Regions from separate parts of the Homo sapiens genome. Here region 2 is linked to region 1. Evidence: fine-mapped expression QTL. A gene starts in region 1. The other region holds a variant in brackets. All regions are shown on one strand. Distances are between the middles of the regions.

Region 1 (4,398 bases):
TTTTAATTTCTTCTGGAAGAAAAAATGCAAAAGAAAAACCCAAAGCTCTTTTTCAAAAGAAAGTACCAAAATATATTATAAAACTATGATAATTAAAATGCTACAGTAATAGTTACATGGGCGAAAGAAAAGAGAGCTCAGACTCAATAAAAACATCAGCAAATGATATGACCTGCCTAAAAAGATTTAACTTTTGTATTCACCAAGGAAGATAAAAATTAAAACAGAATGTTACTTTCAATTACTAGGTGGCTAAGATATTTTAAAAATACCATTATCATCCAGTGCTGGCTAGCATGGAGATAAAAACACATCTTTTGAGCGAGTGAACATAAAAAGGTACAATCATTTCAGGGCAATTTAGCAACATGGTTATCCAGCACTCTCATAAGGAGTCAATTCTACAGAAATACTATCATGACCACCTGAAGCACTGTTTATAACAGCAAGAGATAATCACTGCAGTATTGTCAGTTATAGGGATATCTTGAAAATAACTTGAATGTCTACCAACAGAAAAATGAAATTCACTTGATAAATACATGCCATATTGATCTATTTTTACTGAATAGATAGTATACTGTATTTAACAAACACCATGTCTCAGTCAAGTTCTTAGGCACTTCACCGATTTTAACCCATTTTAACAACTATGTTTGGACCACAGGAGATGCTTATAATCTCCCTTTAAAAAAATTAGTTACATTTGGGCAAATGTTCTGTATACACAAAACTTCAAATATACCGTCTTGGTCTTCCTTAACATAATTGTGGACCTTTTGTCACCCTTTTTCTGGCCTGGCTTAGTTATTTATTGATGTACAGTACAGGACATACCGCATACAGTCACCCATTCCTATAAGGCAGTTTTTCGACAGAAGGGTATTCTTGCACCGTTAGGGGACACTGCTTTGCTATAAACCTCCTAGGCAGGATTACCGCCAGGCTCACCCCTAGTTTTATTCAGGGAACACTGTAGACTCTAGGATCGCGAATGCCATTCCAATAATACCATACACTTGTACGCCACATATTTAAGTTTTGGATACACTTTCATAAACTTTTCTATTCTAATTGTACCTTACAGGGAGAATAAGGAAGAGTAAGCGTGGTTTGTTTAAAGTTACAGATTTCAAATAGACAAGAAGCGACTAAGAGAAACTTGAGAATTCCCAAAGTAATCTTCCTCAAAATTTCAGTCATCAACCCAGTTCTCCCACGAAACGCTGCTTGGCGCCGCCTTCAGACAAACTTCTGTGTTGCTCGCACCAAGTTATCCCAACGCGGCTTGCGCTTGCTGCTGAAATGACCCTCCCTTCGGAGAGACCTGTTTTACCCTAAAAAGAAAAGGTGGCGCATTGCCATGAAGTCTCGAGTAGCAGCAGGCTTCACGCAGAACCCGCAGGAAATGATTTCCCAGCCGGTGCAAACCCGAAGACGGAAACTTCAGCCAAGAACTTATCAGCATATCCCTGAGGACGCAGCTGTCCCCTGACAGGCGACGCAAACGAAACGCCTCAGAAAGGGGCAAGATGACACGGTTAGGATCTCCCTGCCGGCGACACCGAGCGCGGCCACAGGTTGTAGCGCAGGACAGAAGGTTGAGTCATCTAGAAGGCGCCGACCCCTCCCACCCCCTCACCCGGAGCGCGGCAAAAGGCAAGGAGAACGCGTCGACCCTCGCAGCCAAGCCCCGGCAGCTGCCCGAGCGCTCGGCCTCGGGGACCCGCCGTCCTCCTCGCAGGGTTCCCGGGCGCCCAGGCCGAGGAGGGACTTACCCGTCCTTGGCGTGGCCGCCGCCCCCGAGGACCTGAGATCCCGGCTCGGCCTCCTTCCCATGCTTCTCCCGGCCGTGCTCTGCGTCCTCCCGGGCCCTCGCGACACCGGCGCACGTGGGAAGCACCAGTCGCCGGCTCCGCGCTCCCGCGGGGACCCCCCTCAGGGGCACGCCGTCCGCCCCAGCCCCGGGGTCCTCGCCGCGGGCGCTGACAGGGACGCCGCGGCCGCCCGCGCTCTGTCTCCCGTCAGGGTCACGGGCAAGAGGCAACCCCGGGACGCCCGGCAGCCTGCGAGAACATGCCGACTTTCTCTCTGACCGGCGCTAGCAACCGGAAGCAAAACCTCGCGGCCAAAGGAAAAGAAAAGGGGAGGGGGGGGCAAAAAAAGAAAGTGAAAACTGAAGTGAGGCGTCTCCCTCAGAGATGGGAACCAATCGCCGGGAAGAAACCAAGGCGCAGGCGCGGACCGAGGTCAGCGTCCACGCGGCGCTCGCGTCTCCCCTCTGCGCAGGCGTAAGGCCACAGCTCGCTCCTGATTAGGCGGCCGATCCCAACGAGCGCGTGGTGTCTCGCGTTGCCGACCCTTGACAGGAGGCGGAAGATGCCCTTGGGAAGAGGCGGGAGACGCTCTCTCGGCTGACCTACAGTGCTGTGGCTGTGGCCCACGTGGTCGCCTTCGGGCGCCTTCTCCCTTCTCAGCGTTTCATTCCCCAGGTGCTGCTGCAAGAACAGTTTATTTGTCTGGCCCGAATGCGACATTTTGGAAATTTTGCCCTTGTTTTAATCCATATAGTAGGTGTGGCTGTTACCCCCTAGGAAAGCATCTCTAGAAATTTATAACACATGCACAGAGAGCTAAGGTGACCATCAATAAATTCAGGTTTACCCTTGCCCATGATAAATAGTCATGCAAACATCATTTAACTGTAGGGACACCTTATGAGAGAGATGCCTCATTAGGCAATTTGGTCCTTGAGTGAACATCACAGAAACCTAGAAGCATAACCTACTACATACTTACACCATAAGCCATAGCCCATTACTCCTGGCTACAAACCCATGCTATATGTTATTGTACTGAATACTGTGGACAATTATAACACAATGGTAAGTATTTGTATAAGCATATCTAGACATAGAAAAGGTACAATAAAAATACAGTATGAAAAATAATGGTACACCTGTGTAAGGCATTCTCACGAATGGACCTTGCAGTACTGGGAGTTGCTCTGGGTGAGTCTGTGAGTGAGCAATGAGAATGTGAAGGTCTGGGACATTACTGTACACTCTTGTAGACTTTATAAACACTGTACACCTAAGCTACACTGAATTTATTTTTTTAAATTTTTTCATAATTAACCTTAGCTTACTGTAACTTTTTAACTTTTTAAAACTTTTAAAAAACTTTTTAAGACTCTTTTGTAATAACACTTAGCTTAAAACAAACACATTGTACACAAATATTTTCTTTATATCCTTAATCTGTAAGTTTTTTTCTATTTAAAAATTTTTTTAATTTACTTTTTAAACTTTTTTGTTAAAAACTAAGACACAAACACACATTAACCTGGGCCTACACAGGGTCAGGATCATCAACATCATTGTCTTCACCTCCATTTTGTCCCACTGGGGGGCTGGGATTACGGTGGAGCCACTGCGCCTGGCCATGTGTGCTGTACTTTTATATGACTGGCAGTGCAGTAGATTCATTTACACCAGCATCACCACAAACATATGAGTAATGTGTTGCTGTACGAAATTAAGATGGCTACGACATCACTAGGCAATAGAACTCTTCAGCTCTATTATAATCATATAAGATCACTGTTGGATATGTGGTCTGTTGTTAACTGAAACATTAAGTGACATATGACTGTACCAATGAGAGAGATTAAGTGCTAATGAACATGTATCATGAGTCAAGCACTGTGCTGGTAATACCAAGAGATTCAGTCATTGTGTTTACTGTTTACTGTAACCAGGTGCTGTAATAGACACTGGTTTTACAATCATGAACAAGCTAGATAAGGACCCTGCCTATAATGGAATTTATTCCAGAGGTGAGTGACAAACACAGGTAAATCACCACGACAAGAAAATAGAATCTCAGATAACAATACATGCTGTGAAAACTCACTGGAAATGCTAGTGGATGGGACTGGGGGCTGGAGGCCAAGGGCAGAAGTAGTGGAGCTACAAGATCTTACTGAAATGGGCACATCTGAGGTCAAACCCTAAAGATCAAAACTGATAGAACCAAAGCTTGGAATACGTGGAGGAAGAGCTTTCCAGGCAGAAGGGAAAGCAAGTGCAAAGGACTTGAGAAGTGAAATGAAACCTATTCAAGAACAGAAGAAGGCTGACTGTGGAAGTAGAGAGTGAAGTACAACAACATTTTAATAGTGCACAAAACCGGAATGTACAACTCCATGATTTATCACAAGGCAAATATTCATGAAACCAACACCCCCATCAAGAAATAGAACATTGCCAGTACCCCATCCCTCTTCCCTAGCCTAAGCACTATTCTGACTTCCATGGTACTCTCTTCTTTGCTTTTAAAAGTAAGTTTGCCAACTAAATATGCACCCTGAAACTTTATCATTTAGTTTGCTTGTGG
Region 2 (4,339 bases), 77 kb before region 1:
TTTGCTTGGTTTTGAGTGTTTACTGTAGAAATTTTCAATATCATAAATAAATGATTATTTCTTTCTCAGAAAGCTGATTTTTGTAGTGTAGTATTTACAAATACCGTAAGTGAAAAATGATAGTTTATAAATTTGTACCATTTAGGAAAAAATGTTTTATGTAGTGTTGTTTGTGTAACAGCAAATAAAACCATTTAAGATTATAGTTTTTACAAGGGTGGTAAAACCTTTAAAACAGAGCATAATGTGCATCGTATGCCTTTCTGACATTAGCATGCAAAAACAAAGCTATTTGTTAAAATAGACTTATTTTTGCTCCAACTAAGTAAACATGTAAAATTATTTTTAATAAGCTCAATAGCTTAGAAGGCATCTTGTTTAAAATGAAAATAATTTAAAACAATATCTAGCACTGCAACCCAAAGCTAACAGACAACTGCAATGCCACTGTGACATATTTCAGCAAAATATAAAAAATGAAAACTTTCCAAGTTGTAGAACATTGGTTTTTCAAATGTAAGACTGTTCACATGTGTATTCACATGTTCACAAGTTTTCCAAAGGGAAAATACTAATTTTTTATTGGCATCATCCATATCCAGGCAGGCTGTAGTTGAGTCACCTGAAGAAACACAAAATTGATAAAGAACTTCTTAAAATAATACGAACAAGAAATATTTTATAAGCGGGATGCTCTAATGGGGAAAACGCCTATGCATTCTAAGGTTACATTATGTTCTGTACTGACGATCCAAGTTAACAGCAAGTGAAAATGCACATTAGATAAAATAGGTAATTTTAGTAGATGGTTACTTCATTTAGTGATAATTTAGGAATTCCTATTTATGCCAAATAGCAATTCCACCCCTAAACAAACACTTTAAATTTATAGCATGAAGTATGTAAACAACAGTTTCCCAACTGTTTCCCTTAGACACAAATGTCAATATTTGCCATCAACAACTCCAACTCACATGGGAAAGTTACATAAAAAGTGTTCTTACCAATAGCTACTCCTAAATGGAGCTGCTATTTTTTCTATGTTTTCTATAAAGTTATTTACATCTGTAACAAGGATTCCACTATTTTCAAAGACTTCTCTGGGGATAGTAGGCTTGTCTGTTAAAAAAAAAAAAAAACAACTTTTGGTTAATATAATTAATGTACTTTTATATAACAGGACCTGGTTTTTTATTTTAAAAAATCTGTGGAACTTCCTCGTGTGAGGGGTAGGGGGAGAAAAGGTGTTGGGTTCCAAATTAAGAAAAGATTTGAAGCTTTGGAAATAGATGCCTCCATCGGGGGTGGTGGTTAAAGTACTGAAAAAAAATCCCTGAAAAATGATAACTATGGTTCTTTACGTAAATTTTTCTTAACACTTTTTTTTTTTTTTTTTTAAAGATAGATAGGGTCTTGTTCTGCCACCCAGGTTACAGTGCAGTGGTGTGATGACGGCTCACTGCAGCCTCGAGCAATCCTTCTGCCTTAACCCAAGTAGCTAGGACTATAGGCACACATCACCACACCTGCCAACTTCTGTAGAGATGAGGTCTCGCTAAGTTGCCCAGGCTGGCCTCAAATTCCTGGGCTCAGTGATCCACCTGCTTCAGCCTCCCAAAGTGCTGGCATTACAGGCGTGAGCCACTGTCCCTGGCTGCCCCACAAATTTTTTAAAAGCAACCTCTGCCTCCGGGGTTCAAGCCATTCTCCTGCCTCGGCCTCCCAAGTAGCTGGGACTACTGGCATGAACCACCACACCTGACTAATTTTTGTATTTTTAGTAGAGATGGGGTTTCACCATGTTGGCTAGGCTGGTCTCTAACTCCTGACCTCAAGTGATCCGCCCGCCTCGGCCTCCCAAAGTGCTGGGATTACAGGTGTGAGCCACTGCACCCAGCCCCAGTATTGATTTAAAAAATAATAC[G/A]GTATAACTACTTATACTGTATTGAGTATTATAAGTAATCTAGAACTGACTTACATACATAGGAGGATTGTGTAGTTACCTGCAAATACTACATTTTATATAAGGGCTTCAGCTTCAGCAGATTTGGGTGATTCTGGTATCCATGGGATGCCAAGCCATTTAGATACCTGATACTCTTCATCAGGTATCTAACTTTGACATTCCTAGAGCTGACCAATTTTGGCATTAACTGAGTAAAATGCGCCTGTGAATTACCTGTTAGGAGGACAGCAAACCTGGCATCAATATGCTGAATTTGCAGGTTTAGCAAACATTTCAGAATTTCTGCTTTTGTTGATGATCGAGAGTCACACTGGTGATAATGAAGCAATTCAATGATATTTGCACTCTGAAATGACTTCAACATTATGTTCTTCTTATGTGCAGTTGAATCCACTCTGTGAAAGATACATAGGCATATTAAAATATTTTTCAGTTTTATTCTTAGGACTTTTTCTTGCCTTCAGTTTAACCATTCAAACTCATGAGTTCCTCTGCCTTTCTTCTTGACGTTCTTTTTCATGACACACTTTGGTTACCTCAAAACATCACAATTGTACCTACTCCTTTTGTAAATGTGGATTTTAAACATGGGCCTCATTCTAAGAGGGACATCATGCATCTACCTACGACCAATCAAGCCATGTGGCTTGGCAAGCCTTTCATGAATTTCGAGTGGGCCTTATTGCGTTGTATATTTGTAGAGCAATGCACATCTATACTTCTCATACCTTGTGGGCAGATAATCGCCAACTTCATTAAAATTAGGTAGCAGCCAGAATTTTCTTGGTTTCTTGCTTCCCTGAAAATTCTATCACTACTAGGAAAATGTGTTAACTCAGTATGTTTAAATTTTTAGCATTTCTGTCTCTGCTCGACTCCCGTCTCTCTAGTTTTCATCACTTACATTCTCATGCTTGTTGGAGAAAACCCAAATCACACCCATTCCCATAACCCTAGTGATAATCACTCTTAACATCATGAATTAATTTCCTTTCACTTTTTCCTGTATAAATTTTTTATGACATCATACTGAACATAGTTACATGATACCAACTTTTATGCCATCCCTCTTTCTATGAATAGAAACTTTTTACATGCTTCTATTGTGTAAGTTTTGGGTGGGCATTATTTTGTATAAACTTTAAAATATTTAACTGTAGTCTGCATATCTCCCTCCTAGAGATGGAACTGAGGTTGGTTTTGCAATGACTGATAACCACCTAGAATTTTGGGTAAATTCCACAAAAGGTCAAAGGATATGAAGAGTTTTCTAATGAGTTCTCAATAATACATAACGCCTGTTACATAATGCCAGAGTGGTATAATATGAAGAGCATACTGCAGCGCCAACAGCAGTGAGTACGGGCATGTACCACATAATGATGTTTCAGTCAATGACGGACCACATATACAATGGTGGTCCCATAAAATTATACTACTGTAATTTACTGAACCTTTTTTGTGTTTAGACACACAGATACCACCATTGCATTAAATCTGCCTACAGTATTCAGTACAGTCACATGTACAGGTTTGCAATCTAGGAGTAGGCTCTACCATATCAGTTTGTGTAAGTACACTCTATGTCTGCACATAGACAAAATCGTCTTATGACGTTTCTCAGGCTGTATCCCCGTCGTTAAGTGACATGACTTTCTCTACCCAAAGCCCTAGAAGTGCTAGATTGATTTATGCTTATTTTATAGGTGTGCTGTGGTACATCAGAACCTTAAATGTGCTTCTCTACTTACCGAAGTTGACGTTTTTCCCCTCAAGTGCTGGTTACTGAAGTCCGCTGTGAATGGTCATACCCTTGACCTGCTGAAGCCTTTGCACCCTCCTTTCCTGCCAAGGAAACCTCTGTGCTCCTTCTCTCCTTTGCTAGCTCCACTTCAAGAGAAAAGCTTTCTGAGATTCTGTTCCTCAAAGGTCACATACAGCTAACAGTCGTTTCGTCTTTCTGGGATTGAAACCCAGCTTCATAACTTACTACTTGTTTGACCTTGGTCATGTTTGTTATCTACTCTGCTTCAGTTCTGCATTATAAAAGTGAGGATTTGCTATCTAGCTCCTGGGGATGAAGTCTGAATGAAAATGGATGCACCTAACAGTGCCTGAAATCCTTATTTCACAAGGGCTTGTCAGGTCTGCTTTTCCAATTGGTCCTGCTTGTGAGAATGTGGAGGAATCTCTCAGCCCCAGCTCTCTTCAGCCAAGGAATCAAACATGTATTTTTTTCTTTTATAAATTACAGCTTTAGACTTAGTGAAGTTTGCGTATTTATAAGCCTCTTCTTTTAGGGTACAACTGAATTAAGGATAGATTATGGTCTTAATTTTTCCATTCTCCTTAAAGTGGTGGCAACTTATAAGT

Evidence for each region. PIP is the estimated chance that this variant, and not a neighbour inherited with it, causes the effect. A credible set is the group of variants that fine-mapping cannot tell apart.
Region 2: its variant is the best candidate, but not a certain one, in a credible set for the expression of TASOR2 in whole blood (TOPMed, PIP 0.78).

The regions. Positions count from the first base shown.
Region 1 is chr10:5,682,556-5,686,953 of GRCh38, reverse strand. It overlaps TASOR2 (transcription activation suppressor family member 2), which reads right to left and starts at 2,116. Exons shown (of 22, transcript NM_001321783.2): 1 at 1,779-2,116. RefSeq lists enhancers at 1,273-1,452, 2,073-2,182, 2,323-2,562 and silencers at 1,673-1,722, 1,763-2,022.
Region 2 is chr10:5,759,312-5,763,650 of GRCh38, reverse strand. TASOR2 (transcription activation suppressor family member 2) reads right to left here. Exons shown (of 22, transcript NM_001321783.2): 20 at 2,180-2,361; 21 at 1,005-1,119; 22 at 1-622. The coding sequence ends at 619. Among named protein-coding and RNA genes, the nearest start is that of GDI2, 52 kb to the left of the region's middle. The variant G/A (reference allele first, on the strand shown) is at 1,925.